Homo sapiens: one gene and its partners. The protein of the gene in region 4 purifies or fractionates together with the protein of the main gene of each other region. This does not show direct contact. Each region holds a gene or a part of one and is shown on either strand. Other genes may lie near its edges.

Region 1 (3,073 bases), on a different chromosome or scaffold from region 4:
TGCTGACCTGAGGCCATGCAGCCAGACTGAGGAAGAACAGGCCTGCCTCTTCCCTCACCCTGCTCCCACCCAGTCAGGCTGAGGAGATCAGGCCAGACAACTTGTTTGGGTTTAGAGACAAGGGGGCTTATTATGCTGGCGGCACCAAGGCACTAATGGGGGGGGGTATACAAGGGTGGGGGTGGCCCCAAGGCCTAATCCCTGTAATCAGTACTGTGGGCAGAGATGATGATGGGCCTGGCTTCTGCAGGCGCTGAGGTCACCTGGACTGGCCTCCCCCAGCCAAGCAACAGCCCCTGGCCCTCCCCAGGCCCCAGCACTGCTCCCTGCAGCTTGGGTCTGTCTGCCCTCATCCCCCCAGGTCCTCCTCTCCTCAGGAGGCAGCCCCTCCCCAGCACCAGCTTCCTCCTCTCCCCCGCCACCCCCCGCCCGCCCCCGCCATCTCTCTCCTGTACTAACCCTGAGGGTCCCCTCTGAGTGGGGGAAAGAAGAGTCCAGACTTTGAAGCGGAGGCATTACTTTATTCAGGCAGGGACTAGCCAGGCAGGGCCACAGCGTGGCAGGGATGGGGGGAGTCAGCACATGGGAGTGCCGTCACCTCCATTAGCCACAGGCCAGACGGCCCAGGAGGGCGTGCTACTGCAGTGAGATGGTGCACTACTGCAGTGAGGTGGCGCAGGGCTGGTGAGCTTGGGCACAAAAGCCAGCATGTCACCCTCCCTTTGGAGAAGCCTCTGGGCCACAGGCCTTTTCCAGCTGACGGGATGCGGAGGGAAGGGGACCTAGTACTATCGGGATTCAGCTGACTTAGCCTATGAGATGGAGCAGGCAAGAGATTCCCTTTGCAGGGTGGGAGGTTATATTCCTACAGCCTCCATTCTTGGAGTAGGCTCCTTTGCCACACCCCTTTTCACCTTAGCGGGCCAGGCCTCTCAGCCAGAAACCATATGTCAAGAGATCGTAAGTTAAGAGTGCTGCTCCTGAGCAGGGAGCGGGCTTGGAGGCGTCCTTCCCCTCCCCGCACCCCTAAGTCCCCAGTGCCGGGCAGATGGTCTTTTCCTAGTCCTCCCCTGAGGACCAGGACTCTCTATCTCCTTCCCTCTGAGTGAACTTCAGGAACTGACCCTGGCCCAGGTGAACAGGAGCCCCTGCCCAAGAGGTCTTCAGAGCACTCCCCTCCTCCTCCTGAAAGGGGCTCCCTCGGTCTCCCTCAGAGACTAGCGGCATTCCTTGCCCCACTTCCTCAGACTGCTCCAGCCCGTTCATCACTCCCCCATTCACATGCTGTGACTTCCCCTCCAAGTTGGGACCCTGGCCATTAACACCAATGATGTCTGCCCCTGGGCCTGCATCCTCCATCCCACTGGGGATCTCTAGAGGGCCAGGGACTTTGTCCTCCCTCTCCAAGGAAACAGGGTCAGACTCTTCCTCTGAGCCAGAAGGCTCAGCACTGTCCTGGGACTCCGTTTCCAGGGCAGTCTTGGGGGCACCAGCCACTGCACCCCTCAAGCTGTCATCCCAGGGGACACTGACACTCACAGAATCAGACTCCAGGAATTCCCCTCTCTGGGAGCTACTCAGGGCCTGGAGGCTGCCAACAGAAGACCCTGGCCCCCACCGCCCAGCCCCTGGCTCCCTCCCCTCCTCCTGATCCTCCTCTCCCTCCTCCCCACTTTCTTCCTCATCTGCAAACCCATCGGACTCCCCATCTCGATCCCAGGCTGCAGGATCCAGTAGCAGCTGGGGCACCTGGCCCAGAGGTTCTGCCACCTCCCCAGGGACCCCAGGAAGAAAAGGTGCCTCAGTCCCCAGGTCCTCAAATTCTTCTGACAGGTCAGAGTCACGGCCACACTCCTCTTCTCCCTCCTCCCCCTCCTCCTTTTCTGAGGGTGGGGCCTCAAGGCCCTCGGAAGCCAGGACAGCAGGATCCCAGCCCTCCTTTCCAGTCTCCCCTTGAGGGGGTGGCCTCTGCTCTCCAGTGGGGTCCCACCTGGGGGAGGTGGGGGACCTGAGGTAGAAGCCCAGGGGAGTGGAGTCTGGAAGGGTCTCCCCGAGCTCATCCTCCTCGCTCTCTTCTCTGCTCTCCTCCCCTTCCTCCTGGGGGCCCTCGGGGATCTCCCCAGAACCCAACTCCTCCTGCTCGCTCTCTACTTTCCCCAGGGCTTCAGCCCTCCCCTGCACCCCCCAGCTAGCCTCCTGACTCCCTTCAGCCTGAGGCTGAGGCCCAGGGGCATCTTCCAGGATCGGGGTGTACGTTGGGCTGGGGGAGACCAGCACTGGTGGTACATCCTCCTCAGCTTCCTCTGACCCCAGAGGCCAAGGTGAAGGGGCATCACTTCCAGTGTGGCCCAGGGTCTCAGCAGGGAACGCCTCCTCTGCTCCCCTGGGGGCCTCAGCCTCTGACTCCTCCCTACCCTCCCTGGGAGGCTCCCAAGGGTCTCTGCTCTTCCCAGGCAGCTCGGAGAACTCTGTCCCCAGACCACCTGCCTCCTCTAGGTCCTTTCTAGGCCCTTCCAAGCCCTGAACCCTCTTTGCCTCCAAACTCTCCTCTTCCAGGGGTGGTTCCATCACCTCTTCCCTGGTCAGATGGCCTGGGTCCCCCAGCCCTCCCACCCCCTGCCCCGGGCCTGGCTCAGCTCCCGCAGCAGACTCACCCATGGCAGGCTCTGACCCCAACATGACCTCTGGGGAGGCTTGGTCACCCCCTGGGGCCACATCATCTTCCACCAGGGGCTCTATCGCCTCTGGCAGCCCCTGGGGAGCCTGGAGGCCTGGGGCCCCCACCTGTTGTGATTGCCCTTCAGGGTCCTGGAGGCCCTCAGCCCCTCCCTTCACACTGGCTCCCTCAACCAGGCCTCTCTGCTCTTTGGGCTCAGGGCTCTCTGGGTGCCCCTCGCCTGGGATCCAGACCTCCTCTGTGGCATTCAGCTCTCCCTGCTCTACCACCTCCTCCTTCCCAGTGAAGCCATCCTGCTCCCTCAGATTCAGCTCTGCCTCATCCTCATTTTCCACTCCAGCCATCCCAGGAGGGCTTTCCTGAGCCAGTTCTTGGTCCTTCTCCACCGTATCTTCC
Region 2 (6,461 bases), on a different chromosome or scaffold from region 4:
GAGAGACAGAGAGAGACAGAGAGAGAGAGACAGAGAGAGAGAGAGAGAGAGAGAGAGAGAGAGAGAGAGAGAGAGAGAGAGCGCATTAACCCCTCAACGTCCAGAGCCATCCTATCAGAACCTGCAGACGCGGGCCAGGCATGTTTTATCCTTTTGAACACACACACACACACACACACAGTGCACACACAGTCACGCTGAACACCCAGACACATGCTGAAACGTTCCCTCCCTCACTGTGACCCGGGCACCCCTCACCCTAGTGAGGCAATGGAAATATCTTATGCGCAATGCATTCCAAAAAGTTTCCTTCTCTCTGGGGCCTCTTAGTCCCAGGCAAAGAGGGAGTGGGGGTGGAGTGGGTGCAGGGCCGCCTCCTCCAAGTCGCAGGCTCCCCATTATTTCTATTAAGGCTTTCAGGGTTTCCTACCTGGCCCTTCTCCACTTCCCATCTCAGACTGAATAGGGGGGTACCCATGACCCCTTCCTCCTCCTACTGGGAATGGTGGGGAGGGGTGGGGAAGGAAAAAGGGGCCACATTTCAGGGAAGGCCCTGCTAGAGGCTGGCTGGCCGCCCGCTCAGCCATCCCTGACCCTCATCCGCTCAGGGCAGCGGATGCTGCAGTCAGAGCTTTCCTTCCTGGCGCCCCCTTCTCCCTCTGACTCTGCAGTGACAGCAGGAATAGCTGGGAGGAATAGCCCAGCCCAAGCCAGGAGGGGTGGGGAAGGATCTCAGTTCAAGGGTGACCCCTGGGCCAGGCACCCATGGCTGGCCATGCTTGAGGAATGTTGTTGGAATGATGTTAGATAAGTTGACTTGGTCAGTGTTAAAATTCCTCTATTGCAGATGAGGAAACTGAGGTTCAAAGAAGGGAAAAGACTTCTCCCTTGCAAAAGGGGTCAGGGATAAGATTTGAACCAAGTCTGTCAGCCACAGGCTCACAAAGCAAGACCCCTCTAAGCTCCAAACACTCACCAACGGTTACAGTTGTCCCAGTACGTTCCCAAGACTGGATAGATACGACCTCCATGCATACATCCTGTTGGAAGGGAAGAGAAGAGAAGTGGAACCAGAACCAGAGAGGATGGGCTAATTGGCCAGGTCCTTGGAGGTCAGGTACCTTGAACCTTTCCAAGATTCTCTCTCTTTCTCTCTCTCTGTCTCACACACACACACACATACCAGCTCTCACTGAAATTAAACTATAACTGAAGACATCACACACACACACACACACACACACCAGCTGTCACTAAAATTAAACTATAACTGAAGGCATCACACACACACACACACACATACCAGCTCTCACTGAAATTGAAGCCAAACTATAACTGAAGATATCACACACACACACACACACACCAGCTCTCACTGAGATTAAGCTATAACTGAAGACATCACACACACACACACCAGCTCTCACTGAAATTAAACTATAACTGAAGACATCACACACACACACACCAGCTCTCACTGAAATTAAACTATAACTGAAGACATCACACACACACACACACACCAGCTCTCACTGAGATTAAGCTATAACTGAAGACATCACACACACACACACACACACACACACCAGCTCTCACTGAAATTAAACTATAACTGAAGACATCACACACACACACACCAGCTCTCACTGAAATTAAGCTATACTGAAGACAACACACACACACACACACACCAGCTCTCACTGAAATTAAGCTATAACTGAAGACATCACACACACACACACACATACCAGCTCTCACTGAAATTAAACTATAACTGAAGACATCACACACACACACACACACACACACCAGCTGTCACTAAAATTAAACTATAACTGAAGGCATCACACACACACACACACACATACCAGCTCTCACTGAAATTGAAGCCAAACTATAACTGAAGATATCACACACACACACACACACACCAGCTCTCACTGAAATTAAGCTATAACTGAAGACATCACACACACACACACACACACACACACACACACCAGCTCTCACTGAAATTAAACTATAACTGAAGACAAATCCTGCAGGGTCACACACCAACTGCTGTTTGGGAAGTTCTTCAATGATTCCAACCTGGATTCCTCTTACTTTACTTGGATGCCAGCCACAACATTCCTGGGATCCTTTTCCATTTAAATAAGTTAGGGCTTGGAGATGGGGAGTGGGAGGAGCATGGGGAAGCCAAGGCCCAGAGAAGGTAAGCAACCGTCCTAAGATAACACAGCACTCTTGAGATGACAGCTCAGGTATGCAGTCTGCCGGCCCAAGCCCCATGGAACTGTGGGAAGGAACGCAAGTGATTCTCCTATTGGACAGGGGCAAGTGCATGGAAAAGGATGATGGTGAGGCTGAAAGCAGGAAAAGATTTGACCCATCTCCCAGGTATGAGCAGCCATCTCGGGGCACAGGATCCTAGAATCCTCAGCAAAGGCAGAAAAATGGCTAAGATGACCCTCACCAACCCATATGTGCCTTATCAGCCCAAGAGTGAGTCAGCAGGTGCGGCCAGCACCTTCCGTGTCTGGAAAAGAGACAGGATTGGGAGAAAATGTGGGAGGTTGCCCTTTCCCTGGGCCAAATTAGAATTCTAACCAAGGAGCTTCTTCAGTCTTGCTGGAGAGTAAAGTTCCCAGAGGGGCAGGGAAGAGTCCCAGATTCTACAGAGCTTCCCCTGGAAATGTCAGTGCATCCATCAGCTTTGCTCTTGAGCCTTGCTGAGTCTGAGGTGGACAAAGTGACCCACCCTCCTGGCCATCTTAGTGCCCACCTTGGATCGGGGGAAAAGGGGGTGGCACGCCGAGGCAGAAGTCCCAGAAGTCAGGGCAGCAGTCGGAGACCGTGCGGTTGCAGAAGAGGTCACAGTAACAGATGGCGCCCAGGTAGGGCAGGGCACAGTCGTCGGCACGGCCGCGGCAGCACAGGTCCTGCTCCTGGCAGTACCGGCCTCCCGCGTCCCGGATGCCCCGCAGGTGCAGACCCGGTGCTAGCTCCCGGCGCCCACGACCCTGCTGGGCACCCAGAGCCAAGTGGCCAGCCAGCGGCAGCAACAGCAGTAGCCCCAGTGGACATCGCCACATGGTGGCTCCTGGGCCCTGGGGGGCAGAGATGGTGGGCAGCAGAGACTCCCTGGAACACCAGGGATGAGTCTCCCAGTTTCCTGGAGCTGTGAGTTCAAGAGGGCCCAGCAGGGAGGGAGATCCCGATTCCTGAGTCCCCAGGCAGGACACGGGCAGAGGAGCCCCAGTGTGTGGGCCCTGGCTATAGGGGGATGGGGACTGGGCAGAAACGGAGCCCCTCCCTGACCTAGGCAGGGACCTTCAAGGACAAGGAAATGAGGGTGGTGGCATTCTTGGTGCTCCCACCCAACACTCATCCTGTGGACCCAAGGTCTTCTCTCCTGTCCTAGGTCTCTCTGCCCTCCAGCAGCCTCCATCCCTGACCTGGGTCCTTGACTTTGTGCTTTCCTGTCTCCCCCGGTCTTTTGGGTACACCTCTCTTCTGTTCCTGTGTCCCTCTGTCCCCCTCCACTGTCCCTCTCTCTGCCATCTGTCTTGGTTCCTCTACCTGCCCCCTCCCCCTGTTTCTTCTCTGTCTACACCTTCCGCCCTCTGAGCAGGGGAGCGTCCCTACCTGGTGAAGGTGTGGGCTGGGGCCCAGGCTGGCCCGCGCGCCTCCGCCTCCTGGCTCTGCGACCGCCGGACGCTCAAAGTCAAGAGAGGAGCGCGGGGCGGGGCGCTTTTTGTACCGCCCGCCCTCTGCACCGCCCCAGCAGTGGCGGAAGGGAGGGGCGCCTGGCTTGTACCTGGAGTAACTACCCCACAACTCATGGGCTTGCAGGGTGGAGAAACGACAAGCACACGATTGTCCTGGCTGGGTCTCCTGTGGCGGAAGCCGTTCCCTTAGGGGAACCCCAAGCAGGAAGGATTGCGGTTTCACACTGGGAAGGACTTCACAGTGGGCATCCCTGTGGAGCTGAGGGGCTCTGGTGGAGAAGGGGGGATATGGGCAGCCGAGCTCTGGGTTATGGACACAAGTTTGGGAAATGATGGGGAGGGCATGTGAGGCAAAATTCTGTAAGCCTCTCCTGACCCCTCGGTAATAAAAATAGCCATGCACACCCCTCTCCACTGTGCCCCCTAGGCTTGGGTGCCGCCCCCCTAGCCACCCCAGCTCCTAGGAATGATTGGAATTCCAGGAGTATGATCCTTAGGTGCCCTGGGCGGCTCATCCCTGGGAGGTGGGCAGGGTGTGGGGGTGGCCTCTGCACCCTTTGATCCCTTGTTGAGTCTGCCTTCCCTTGCCTGCTTGGGCCCCTAGACGAGCACTGCCCTCTCTAGCAAACCCAAGGGCATCCTGCTTGGCACCTGTCCCCCTCCAAGGGTCCAAAGGCAAGGGCCCTACCAGCTGGCACCCCCTGCAGAGGCCCTCCTTCCTGCCGCAGGCATAAACCTTTCTTTGCCCAGGCTGGCCTGGGACCCAAACAATGGGGCTTCTGTCCCGCCAGGTCTGCCGTCACCTTTTACCTCCCTATTGTGCAACGCCCTCTCTTCAACAGGTTGGGCCCAGGCCAGAGGTCTCTACCAGCAAAGAGGATAAAAGAGACTACACCTGGACAAACCCTCCCAGGCCCAGGCCTGAGCCTCACATGTGGCCCCGGGGAAGGCATCAGGGACTCCCTTTGCCCTCCCACTGACCTCCCTGCAAACCTCCCCCAAACCAAGGGGCATCCTCAGCTGGCCAGACCCTGGGGGAAGGGAGAGAGCCGAGGATCACCGGCACCTGTGGCTGGGTTACCCCTGCCATGGACCACTGGGTGGTGAGTCACCAAGGGGGTCCTGCCCTGGTGGTGGGGGTGGAGGGATAATATCCGGGGGCCCCAGCACTGGCACTAACACACCCAGGAGCTGCCCATCTGCTCCCTGCAGGGACCTGGGAGGACAAAGCCTAGGTGGGAAACTGAGGCTCAGAAGAATGCACTTGCCTGAGGTCGTGCAGCCAGAACACAGGCTCCCTGCCTGCCACCAGCCCACTCCTTTACCCCTAGTCACCCTTAGTCACCCACTACAGGTCTCAACGTGCTCCTGGTTGGGAAGTCTCTTTTCTTATCTAAACTCCATTCATCTTACTGCAGGACGGGCCCCTCGGTATTGGTAAATGTCATATCCTCAGGGTAAGAGATGAAAGCTGCTTTCTTTCAAAAGAGTTCGTGTCCAGAGTTCCTACTTTTATGGTACCTACTTTTTCATGGTTCTGGGGCTGGGGGCTTGTTTAGAGACATCTGGCCTCTCTTTTGCCCAAAATCACACCGCATAGGCTACCCTCGTGAGTCTGGGTGTGTTATCTCTGTGTGCATGTATGCATGTGTATATCTGAGTTGCGGTGTTTGTGGGGGTGTTTCTGCTTCTGCTTGAGTCTGTCAGTCCACATCTGATCGTCTGGGTTTTTTTTGCTTTTTGTTTTTTGTTTTTTTTTGAGACAAGGTCTCACTTTGTCACCCAGGCTGGAGTACAGTGGCGCGATCTCGACTCACTGAAGCCTTGACCTCCTGGGCTCAAGTAATCCTCCCACCTCAGCTTCCTGAGTAACTGGGACTACAGGTGCACACCGCCATGCCTGCCTGAATTTTTTTTGTATTTGTAGTAGAGATGGGGTTTCACCATGTTGCCCAGGCTGGTCTCCAACTCCTGAGCTCAAGCAATCCGCCTGCCTTGGCCTTCCGAAGTGTGTTTACCTGTCTATCTGCTATGTGCCTGTGTATCTGTGAGTCTGGATATTTTGGCTATCTGCCTGTCCTTGTCTGACTGATTGTCTGCTTGTCTATCCATTTACCTGTCCATCTGCTACATACCTGTGCATCTGTGTGTGTGTATCTGTCTGGATGTTGTCTCTGTGTCCATTATGGATCTGTCTGTCTGCCAGCGTGTGTTGTTTGCCTGCATTTGTGCACTTGTTGGCTTGTATGTCTGTGTGTGTGTCCTGCCTGTGCCTCCCTGTCTAAGAGGTGTCTGTGTATCTGTGTGGGAGTTGTGGCCATCTGCCTGTCCTTGTCTGCCTGCCTGTCTGTGCATAAGAGGCAGGGACTCAGAGCAGGGGATGGGAGCAGAGCCAGAGCCTCCCACCATCACTCAGCTTGGCACAGAGCCCGCCCCAGTGGAATTTTGTGACTCACTGGGTTCCTTGGCCGAGGAGGAAAAGGGCAGGGCCGGGGGTGCTGGACACCCCCACTTTCCTTTTCCATGACCCTTTGACCCTTTGCCTCCTAGTGACTCCTAGTGACTCATTGACTTATTATTATTTTTTTTGATGGAGTCTCGCTCTGTCGCCCAGGCTGGAGTGCAGTGGCGTGATCTCAGCTCACTGCAAGCTCTGCCTCCTGGGTTCAAGCCATTCTCCTGCCTCAGCCTCCTGAGTAGCTGGGACTACAGGCACCCACAACCAGGCCC
Region 3 (4,544 bases), on a different chromosome or scaffold from region 4:
TGCCCAGGGGCATCTGTGGGAGAGAGGAGGGTGGTGCCATACCTGCTGCATCAGGCATCAAAATCCCCCGTCAGTTCCCCTGACCCCCACCTCCACGCCAACATGCAGGACTAGGGGGCTCCGAGCCTGCAGTCCCTGGGGACCCACGGGGGCTGCCAACAGAATTCAGGGAGCCTATGACCTTGGATGGGAAAGCATTACACCTCAATTTCACTCACTTCTCACTGAAATTGAGCAGTTCTTTCAATGAGATGTAGGCAAGAAACCAAAGTAGCAGTGGTAGGACCTGCAACTTTGTTACTAGTATTTGCTTATCACATGACAGTAGCTGCAAATATTTCAAAATATCATTTACACATATTGCTGCTTTGAAATTGTGGTAGCTACTGAGATCACCAGATCTTGTTATTTGATGTGTTAATAAAGAAGCACATATATAGCAAGTCAGGAAACTTAAAACATGTTTTGATTACTTTACTTCAGCATAATTGCTTTCCTTAAATCAATGTATTTTATTTTATTTTATTTTGTGTAGTCAACAGGATCCGTGTCGGGTGACCCGCCATTCTACTTGCCAAATTCTGTCTGGCTTTAGCCCTGAAAGTCCCACATCCCAAGAAACCCCTCAGTCCGGAGCTACTGGGACCGTTGGTCACCTTGGACTGTGGCAATAAATGGTTCAGAGCCTTGGTGTTCTCTCCATCTTACAGAAGAGCAGGCAGGCTTGGGCGAGTGACTGGCCCAGGATGTCCATACTGTGTGTGGCTCCACACCCCCCCAGCCCTATCTGCTCATGACCCATCCCACAGGCCGGCACTGGCCACAGTAGCTCTGGCAGGGGACAAGAGTAGGGGACCCTCTGCTACCCTCCACCAAATGATGAGGAGAACGGCTGACATTTACCTAACACCTATGATGTGGCTGTGCGGGGAGCGTCCCATCCAGCTACAGACACCACTGCATTTAACTCAATCCTTACAACAACCCTATGAATGAATATTATATATAGATAATTTTTATTTTATTTATTTATTTTTGAGATGGAGTCTCGCTCCGTGGCCCAGGCTGGAGTGCAGTGGCACAATCTTGGTTCACTACAACCCCCACCTCCCAGGTTCAAGCAATTCTCCTGCCTTGGCCTCCCGAGTAGCTGGGACTACAGGTGTGCACCACCACACCTGGCTAATTTTTGTATTTTTAGTAGAGATGGGGTTTCGCCATGTTGGCCAGGCTGGTCTCGAACTGATCTCAGGTGATCCACCCACCTTGTCCTCCCAAAGTGCTGGGATGACAGGTGTGAGCCACCGCACCCAGCCTTATTTTTTATTTTTTTGAGACAGGGTCTCAGTCTGTTGCCCAGGCTAGAGTGCAGTGACACAATTGTAGCTCACTACAGCCTCGACCTCCTGGGCTCAAGTGATCCTTCTGCCTCAGCTGGGACCATAGCCATGTGCCACCACACCCAGCTAATTCTTAAATTTCTTGTAGAGATGAGGTCTCCCTGTGTTGCCCAGGTTGATCTTGAACTCCTGGGCTCAAGCAATCCTCCTGCCTGTCTCCTGAGTAGCTGGGACCATAGATGAGCACCACCATGCCCAGCTACTTTTTGTATTTTTTTGTAGAGACAGGATTTCGCCTTGTTGCCCAGGCTGGTCTGGAACTCCTGGGCTCAAGCAATCTGCCCGCCACAGCCTCCCAAAGTGCTGGGATTATAGGCGTGAGTCACCATACCCAGCTGAATATAGTATTTTTTTTTGAGAGGGAGTTTCGCTCTTGTTGCCCAGGCTGGAGTGCAATGGTGCATGCAATCTTGGCTCATGGCAACCTCCACCTCCCAGGTTCAAGCGATTCTCCTGCCTCAGCCTCCGGAGTAGCTGGGATTATAGGCATGTGCCACCACGCCCAGCTAATTTTGTATTTTTAGTAGAGATGGGGTTTCTCCATGTTGGTCAGGCTGGTCTCAAATTCCCAACCTCAGGTGATCTGCCCGCTTCAGCTTCCTAAAGTGCTGGGATTACAGGCGTGAGCCAGTGTGCCCGGCCAGCTGAACATAATATTAACAACAGCTAACATTCTGTACTGACTCTGTACCACACATTGTTCTAGGCATTTAAAATGCACTAAGTGGCCGGGCGCGGTGGCTTATGCCTGTAATCCAGCACTTTAGGACGGTGGCTTACGCCTGTAATCCAGCACTTTAGGAAGCCAAGGGGGGCGGATCACCTGAGGTCAGGAGTTAGAGACAGGCCTGGCCAACATGGTGAAACCCCATCCCTACAAAAAATACAAAAATTAGCGGGGTGTGGTGGCAGGCACCTGTAATCCCAGCTACTCAGGAAGCTGAGGCAGCAGAATCGCTTGAGTCTGGGAGGCGGGGGTTGCAGTGAGCCGAGATTGTGCCACTGCACTCCAGCCTGGGTGAAAGAGCAAGACTCCACCTTAAAAAAAAATGCACTAAGTAATTTTACTCTCACATAAAATTTTATCCAAATCTTTAGGGAAAGATGTTACTCATCTCCATTTTATATGAGGCACAGAGAGGTTAAGCGACTCACCCAAAGTTCCACAGCTAGTAAGTGGGAGAGCTAGGATTTGAACCCAAGCAGGCTGGCTCCAAGTCTATACTCTTACCCACTATACCACTGCCTCGCCTATTATATTAGTGATACATAAGAAGAGATGTGTCTGTAAAGGGGTTAGCACAGTGTCCGTAAACATTCAATCAGCATTCACTCTTCACTGTTTCCTTAGCTTTTCAGTAGACGGTGGAATTCTTGGGAATGAGGGTCTTGCTTTATGCATCTTATATTTACTGCTCTCAGGGCAAGGATGGGCAACAATAGTTTGTTGACTGAATACATGAATACAGAGGAGGAAACTGAGGTCAGAGTGGTTTCAAAGGCCTGCCCAAGGTCACCCAGCCAGTAAGTGTGGGGCAGGCCCTAGCTCCACATGGCTGTGGTCTTCATTCTGTCTCTCTGCCCAGCAAGCTCCTCATATAAAGCTGTTTTGCTTGCAGGCCAGAATTGAGGGTGTGGGGTAACTGGAAGAGTGAGCTGAGCTGAAGCTGGGGAGGAGGCCATGGCAAGTACTCACCATTGCCCCCGCTGCCTTCAAGATGCCAGTCGGACTCTGCTATGCCATGTCCAGAGCCTATGGAGAAGGGCAGGGTCCAGTTGGTGGGCATAGACACCCGTGGGTACTATGTCGAGCTCCGGGGCCCCAAGACAGAGATGAAGTGGAGAGAAGCCAGGCCTGGGTACCTTGTTGGCAGCGTGGGCCAGAGAAGCCAGGGAGGCAGAGGCAGCGGGTGCCCTGGCAGGTGCCCCCATGCAGACAGGGTTCACGGAGCTGGCAGGGGTTCTCCTCGTGCTCACACAGGTCTCCTGTGGGCCAGGGCAGAGGCGAGTGGGTGGGTGGGCATGGGCTGGAGGTGTCGCTGACCACCTGTGCCCCTCCCCTCCGGTGCCCTGGGCAGGCTTTCCCACCTTTGAATCCATCTCGACACAGGCACTGGAACTCATACTCGCCAGCGGGCATGCACGTGGCACCATGTTGGCAAGGCTGGCGCTCACATGGGGAGCTATCATAGCATTGCCCGATGCCCTGGCTGCCTAGGAAACTGTAGGTGAGGTCCAGCCGTTTGCCATTCACTGACACCTGTGGGGACAGGGACACCGAGGGACTAAAGGGGCCTGGGAGGCAGAGACCCAGGTGTACCAGCAGGGAGAAGAATGCAGCAGAGGGGAGCTGGGAGCCCACATTGGGCCCTGAGTGGTAGCATGGATTCTCGGTGTGGGGAGGGAGGCGCAGGAGTTGAGTGCCTACTGTGTGCTAGAAACATTCATCCGTCAGTGCAGACAATCCTCTGCCCAACCTTTCAAAGTAGGTGTGATCATGCCCATTTTACAGAGGAGGAAACTGAGGCTCAGAGGTACAGTGTCCTGGCCCAGGGCCCGTGGGTGGCTGCAGGTGGAGGGGCCCAATGCCAAGGTGCTTGGAGAGCCGAGGGGGACACAAGGCTTGGCACCCCTCCCCTCCCGCTTGTCCCGAGGAGGCTGCTCTTACCTCGCCCACACAGCCGCGGAAGTGAGCGCTCATGTTGGTGGCCGGGGACAGTGGCACGGAAGGCTCCACACCCCCCAGGTAGAGCAGGGTGTGCAGGTTGAGGCCCTGGCTCTTGCCGGGCGAGGAGCGCAGCACAGGGCGTCCACCATTCACCCGCAGGCTGCCGTCCTTGTTGAGACGCTCTGCAGACACACGGTGCCAGCGGCCCAGGGCCAGCGGCTCGGCGCTCCGCAGAACGGCCAGCCCTGGGGAGGATGCCAGGCAGGGTTGGGCACATGGGGGCACACGGGGCTCCCTGCCCTCTCCACCACAAACAGGGCCCTGAGCAGATGGGGAATGCCCTACAGCCTTCTGTATTCCAGATGAGGAGCCCATGGCTCAGAGAGGGCTAGGGATTGGCCTCAAGTGACACAGAGACGAAATGCACAGGAAGAGGGGACTTGCCCTGATCCCTGCATTTATCCTCCCATGCCTCC
Region 4 (6,132 bases):
ATGGGAAAGAATGAAGGTAAGCTGTCAGCCTTCTCAGATTCTATAGGACTAGACCATATCACTATTTGGCTACAAACATGCACTATTTAAGCAAAGGAAAGAAATGACCCCAAAGGCAACTCAGAGATCAGGGTGGCCACTCAGTGTGTGTGTGTATGTTTTGGAGGAGGGGGCACAGGCAGGAGAAGAGCTGAGTTCCTCCTCAGTTTCCGAGGGAAGGTCACCCTGCCAAGCCACAAGGATGACACTGCATCAAAGCAAAGAGGATTTATTCTTGAGGCTTAAGATATAATGGAATTTGCCTCAATAGGTTTTGGACTTGCTTGGGACCCATTAACACTTTGTTTCCTATTTTTCCTTTTTGGAATAGGAATGTCAATCCTACACCTGTCTCACCATTGTGCTTGGGACGCACATAACTTGTCTGGTTTCAGAGGTTCACAGCTGGAGAAAGATAGGAATCATAGCTCAAGTCTCACCCATACCTGATTTAGAAGATATTTAAATGAGACTTTGTACTTTAAAGTGAGAATGAGTTTAGATTCTGGGGGCTGCTGGGGTGGAATGCATATATTTTGCATGTGATAAAATGAATTTGGGGGAAGGGCTAGGGACAGAATGCTATGAACAGCATATGTTCACCCAAAATTCATATATTGAGAGCCTAACCCCCAATAAGGCTGTATTTGGAGACAGGGTCTCTAGGAGATATTAAGATTACATGAAGTCATCAGGATGGAGCCCTAATCCAATAGGATTGGTGCCCTTATAAGAAGAAGGGAAACCAAAGCTAGCTATCTCTCTGCCATATGAGGACACAGTGACAAGGCAGTCATCTGCAAGCCAGGAAGAAAGCCCTCATCAGAAACTGAACAATGCCAGACCATAATCTTGGACTTTCCAGCCTCTAGAACTATAAGAAATAAATCTCCGTTGTTAAGCCACCCAGTCTATGGTATTTGTTAAGGCAGGCTAAGCTAATTATACTTTCTGTACCTTGGTTTTCCCATCTGTGAAATGGGGATACTTATGCCATTATCTTACGCTTGTTGTAAGAACAAGTTAACACATGGAAAGCATAGAGAACAGAATCCAGCATATAATAAGTACTATGTCTTTGTGAGCAATGGTTATAAAGACGAAGTCTTTGTGCTCAAGGTGTTTGGCTGTCTACCTTGCACAAAAGGTGCCATTTGGCCTTAGCTGGGTATCTAGAAACCCTTGAAAACTCTCACTCCCCTTGGCCAATGTTTACAACTCTTTTAGCTTAAGTCTTCATTTCTATTAAGGTTAATTTCTATTGGAAGGGTAACAGTCACTTATTTCTCAAAGCAATGAAAAAAAGATGTAGGTCCCCAGAGGATGACAGTGAGTTGGAAGCAAAGGATGAAGCCCCTGAAGCCTATTTCTTCAAAGCATGAAGTTAAGGAGAAGGCAGAGTGGAGTAAACTTGAGAGAGGCAAGGCTATTTAAAAGGGTAATTGTTAAACTCGGAATTACTACAAAACTTCTTTTTTAAAAAAGAGACTCCCACGGGGCACAGTGGCTCATTCCTGTAATCCCAGCACTTTGGGAGGCTGAGGTGGTTGAATCACCTGAGGTCGGGAGTTCGAGACCAGCCTGACCAACGTGGAGAAGCCCTGTCTCTACTAAAAATACAAAAATTAGCTGGGCGTGGTGGCGCATGCCTGTAATCCCAGCTACTCAGGAGGCTGAGGCAGGAGAATCACTTGAACCCAGGAGGCGGAGGTTGCAGTGAGCCGAGATCACACCGTGCCACTCCAGCCTGGGTGATAAGAGTGAAACTCTATCTCAAAAAAAAAAAAAAAAGAGAGACTCCAAAACTTTCAAGACTGCATTTATTTGTCTCTAGAAGGTAACCCTGGGCCTTTTCATTTTTCATACTTGTGGAAGTCTGAAACAGAGAAAACATTCCATTATAAATAGTTAAAAATAAGAACCGTTTACAAAAGAAATAAAGAAATATGCAAAAAATTAATTTTATTAGTAATCAAAGATGTTTAAATTTAAAGATACTACTTTTTTACCCATTAAGATTCCTTCTTTTAATAGAGCTCATTGCTAAGAATGTGATGGAATTAGCACTCTTATTATACAGCCAGTGGTGTTATAAATTGGCACTATGCATCAGGTTATAGAATGACCTACCTGTGACTCAGCAGTTCTACTTCTGGGAATCTATCCTGCAAAAACAATACAAAATACAGAAAGGGCTAAACACATCGGTTATTTGTCACGTTTAAGAGAACAAAAAACTGAGAACATAGTGGCCAACAGTAAAAAAATTGTCCCACCTAATGGGTCACATAAACATGCCAGTGATAGAAAAATCAAGAACAGGCACACAATGTTATGTACCTGATGATAATTTTTTATTTTAGTTGCAAAGGAAAAGAAATGGGAAGGATTTTAGTGTATTTCCATCAGTGGTTTTACTAACGTGGCAAGATCATTTTGTCTCTGCTCAATTTTCTGAAACTCTCAACTTGAAGAAAAAATAAACCCATGACTGAAAAATAAAGCCGCTCAAGTCATGGTCAGGCATTTTGGATACTGAAACCTATTATGTACATCACTGTGGATGGTAAAGCACCGCAATCAAATGCTTTAACTTAGCCTTAAACATTTATCTATTTTCTAGTCCACCCTCCTTTACATTTCAAAGTTGAGTTTTGTTAGAACGAAAGTGGTTAAAAAGGACTTAACACTATCACCCACATCCCCCCCAACCCCAACACTTCACTGACTTGCAGGTATTGGGCAAGTTACTTCTGTTCCTTAGTTTCCTCACATGTAAAATGGATATAATTGTTTGTATAGCACAGGGTGGTTGTGAAAATTAAATAGGTTAATATGTATACACTGCCAGGAGCAGTCTCTGACACAAAATATGTATGAGTAGCTTTTTTTTTCTAATCTTGATCGAGTCTTTCCACTATACAAGTGATCAACATTTCTTTCTTTTTATAGTTCAGACCTAGCTTTGGAAGCTTTATTTTTAAAATAAATTTTAATTTTTTTCATATTTAGAATTTTTTATACTTGAGACAAATTCATATAAATTTACCTGAAGGATTAAAGGATGACAATATTCTGCCTATAGTCTACTGCATTTTAGAACATTTATTTTAGTTTGTTTTTAAGAATTAGCTGGAAAATTTCAGAAACGTAATATTTAAGTATGAGAATAGAAAAACTTGCCAAAGTTTATAAATGTTGTCTTTATTGTCACAGCTCATTAAAAATTGGCTGTTGGTCTCATCTAAGCCAAAGAGTTTAAGGTCCAAGAAGAGGGTAGTCTGGAGAATAGAAACCCAGTTTGCTGCTTAATATCTTTAAGAAGGCAGGCACACTCCAATTGTTGGCAGTGTGGCTGCAGAATTTGACGTATTATCCAATGTACATTCCTCCACCCACTGAGCCAGGCTTGGTGAGGGAGATGGGGTAAACAGAAATCCTTGCTCACTCAGCTTTAGAGTTCAGTCCCTGTTCCTATGATAATCTGAAAAGCAAGGCTCTTTCCAAAATCCCAGAGAACCACAAGCATAGGCACCATCACAGCACCAGCCCCTAAATCCCCAAAGTATAGAGAGCACAGTAAAATCCCAGGGCTATAAATGCAGTCGCCGGAGCAGCTTTTCCTCTGAGCCACTGTGCCTTTAGACCAGGGCAGAAAATCCCAACACCTTACCAGGTGAAATATGCTACTCTGGTGCAGGAAGGAGTGGGGAGGACTGGGACAAACCAGAAGGCACCCACCCCATTAAATGGGAAACAACTTTGGAAAATGCTGGGCTGACTAATCTCATCAGAATATGCCCCATGGGCTATTGGTGAACCCCAGGGCAGATGACTGTGCTTCTCAAGCAAAGCGAGACCCATCACTTACTGTGGTAGAAGTTTTACCATCGTATAGAGCCACTACCTGGGGGAATGTGAGGTGGAAGACAGAAGAAAGAGGCTTCAGGTCTTTCCCAAGGTGCTAATGAATTCATCCCAACTAGCCAAACCGTCTCATTTCAGAGCTTAAAATGCTATAGGAAGAAATGTCCCCAGTGAGTAATTTCACAGATTACCGCAACTTGGAACAGGGGTGGTAGGAGTCTACCATCCACACAGGATTCTTTCTCTCAGAAACTCTTTCAAGGAACATTCCCATGACATGCCAGAGTTTGGAAATATATACTGGCAGCATACCAAGGCCCCTGTAACAGATACTATGTCTCTCCATATGTCCCTTTCCAAAGGCCCTCAAGCCCCAGCACTCTTGGCATCTCACTCCAAAATTGAGGGTGGTCTTTGTCTAGAGACATGGTCTCTACAGTGTCACTGGCAACTCTGAACAAAATTTAGAGCCATGCATAATATGAAATGCCAGAACCATAACCACGAGTGGCAAATAGAAGGAATATACAATGGCAAGACAGCGAACAGCCTGCCATCTAGCAATGCCAACCCCAATATGGCAAAAACCTACACTTTGAAGCTCTAATTTTAAACAGGCCTCTCCTGGACCTTGAAATTAATTTTTCTCCCTACCAACACCACATGCTGTGGCTTCTCATGGCTCACGGCCCTCTCTGTCTGCACGAATACTTGCCAATTCATTCCCCGAGTGAACTTCTGGGGCTCTGGCCCCAGACGTTAATCTCCATCCCTGTCATCAGCAGATTCTCATGCACTTCATTTGGGACTTTGCCTCCCAGGAATGTTGTTGATCTTGCACAGCCTGCTCTGACCCCATCTCCAAATCCCCCAAAACGCCCATCCCTGCCACTACCAGGATTTCATTCCCTGGGTCCTCATCAAGGGTAGGGAAAAGGGTGCCACTCCTGCAAACTGAAGCTGGAGAGGGCCTGCCTCCCAAATCTTAAGCTCCTCTGGATATGAGCATTTCTGTCCAATGAGTCACATTATCTGTCACTAGGTCTCTAGTCTGGACAGGATCCTGAAACCTTATGGAGTCACCGCTTCAGGAAAGCTGGGCTGAATCTTTACGAGGATCCTTTTGTCAAATAAAGGTCAGCCTGAGCATCACTTCCTTGGACCCTTTTTATCTTGAGCCCACCCTGGTTCCTGATTGTAAAATGCAAGCTTTTTATACAGTTAATAAAGGTGATATTGAATAATCGCTCAACTCACATATAATTAAAGATCTCAGAGATAAATGTTAACAAAGAGAAAACTAGCCAGAAAGACGGCTGCACAGTAGGTACTTCAAAGAAAATGCGAGTTCTTCTCCCTCCTAAACAATTCAGTACTAATGTCATCAGTTGGGTCACAGTTAGGTAGTGAGAAGCCACAGTGACCCAAGTGAAGTGGTATCAGAGCCCAAGCAGGGTGAGATGGCACCCACATACAGAGGCAGCCCAGCGCAGGATATCAGAGATCCAGCAGATGAGGGGCATATTCACATGGGGGGTGTGGTCCAGTGCAAACATGGTACAGCCCAATCAGGATGAGAACGGCAGCCCCATGAAAGGAGTGGAGGCCTGGCCTGGGGACTCAGAGCCCAAGCTGGGTAAGAAGTCCATGGAAAGGGGCAGTTCAGCATGGAGTAGAGAAACCTGAGCTGAGTAGGCCAGGCACTTGTGTGTGCAGGTGATTTAGCGAGAGCAGGGAGAGGAGGAATCCACATATGAGGGGACCGGCGTGGAACGTCAGAGCCAAGAAGGAGGTTTTTGCGGAGGTACAGCTTGCCATGAGTGTTAAAGTTCAAGTGGGTGAGGAGAACAGCCATGTGGTGAGGGGATGGCAACAGAGATGGGAGATGGGTTATACACAGGGGCATCCTCAGATAAGTGGCTGATTCCAGGGCTGGGATAGAAAAGTACAAGATGAGCTTGGAACACCTTCTGCCAAAAAGGAAATGATCAAATAATCGTGATGACATATCAAACAGAAAGGCTGCCAGCTTAAGGAGCTTTCGCTGGCCACAGTGGGGACAATTGGAGCAATAAAATAATAAAAAATGATAGTATATAATAATCCACTGAATTAAACAGAAAACCATGAGCTCATACTAATATAAAAATGTCTGTATAAAAACAACCAAAATGTTCTAAAATATTTACGTGAACAGTTAAACTGTGGTACATCCACACCACAGAT

Evidence for each region.
Region 1: the proteins of FIGLA (region 4) and NES purify together in Homo sapiens (affinity purification with mass spectrometry; one large-scale study listed by BioGRID and IntAct). This does not show direct contact.
Region 2: the proteins of FIGLA (region 4) and TINAGL1 purify together in Homo sapiens (affinity purification with mass spectrometry; one large-scale study listed by BioGRID and IntAct). This does not show direct contact.
Region 3: the proteins of FIGLA (region 4) and HSPG2 purify together in Homo sapiens (affinity purification with mass spectrometry; one large-scale study listed by BioGRID and IntAct). This does not show direct contact.

The regions. Positions count from the first base shown.
Region 1 is NC_000001.11:156,668,263-156,671,335, forward strand, and holds the end of NES (nestin), read right to left. Parts: coding exon 1,060-3,073; 3' UTR 501-1,059; downstream 1-500. UniProt on the Homo sapiens protein: Required for brain and eye development.
Region 2 is NC_000001.11:31,573,783-31,580,243, reverse strand, and holds the start of TINAGL1 (tubulointerstitial nephritis antigen-like isoform 1 precursor), read right to left. Parts: upstream 3,730-6,461; 5' UTR 3,649-3,729; intron 3,111-3,648; 5' UTR 3,096-3,110; coding exon 2,786-3,095; intron 2,401-2,785; exon of another isoform or gene 2,347-2,400; intron 2,100-2,346; exon of another isoform or gene 2,056-2,099; intron 1,041-2,055; coding exon 977-1,040; intron 1-976. UniProt on the Homo sapiens protein: May be implicated in the adrenocortical zonation and in mechanisms for repressing the CYP11B1 gene expression in adrenocortical cells. This is a non catalytic peptidase C1 family protein.
Region 3 is NC_000001.11:21,824,767-21,829,310, forward strand, and holds part of HSPG2 (basement membrane-specific heparan sulfate proteoglycan core protein isoform b precursor), read right to left. Parts: intron 4,314-4,544; coding exon 4,069-4,313; intron 3,661-4,068; coding exon 3,489-3,660; intron 3,387-3,488; coding exon 3,264-3,386; intron 3,154-3,263; coding exon 3,097-3,153; intron 460-3,096; exon of another isoform or gene 14-459; coding exon 1-13. UniProt on the Homo sapiens protein: Integral component of basement membranes. Component of the glomerular basement membrane (GBM), responsible for the fixed negative electrostatic membrane charge, and which provides a barrier which is both size- and charge-selective.
Region 4 is NC_000002.12:70,775,468-70,781,599, forward strand, and holds the end of FIGLA (factor in the germline alpha), read right to left. Parts: intron 2,205-6,132; coding exon 2,170-2,204; intron 1,916-2,169; coding exon 1,900-1,915; 3' UTR 1,843-1,899; downstream 1-1,842. UniProt on the Homo sapiens protein: Germline specific transcription factor implicated in postnatal oocyte-specific gene expression.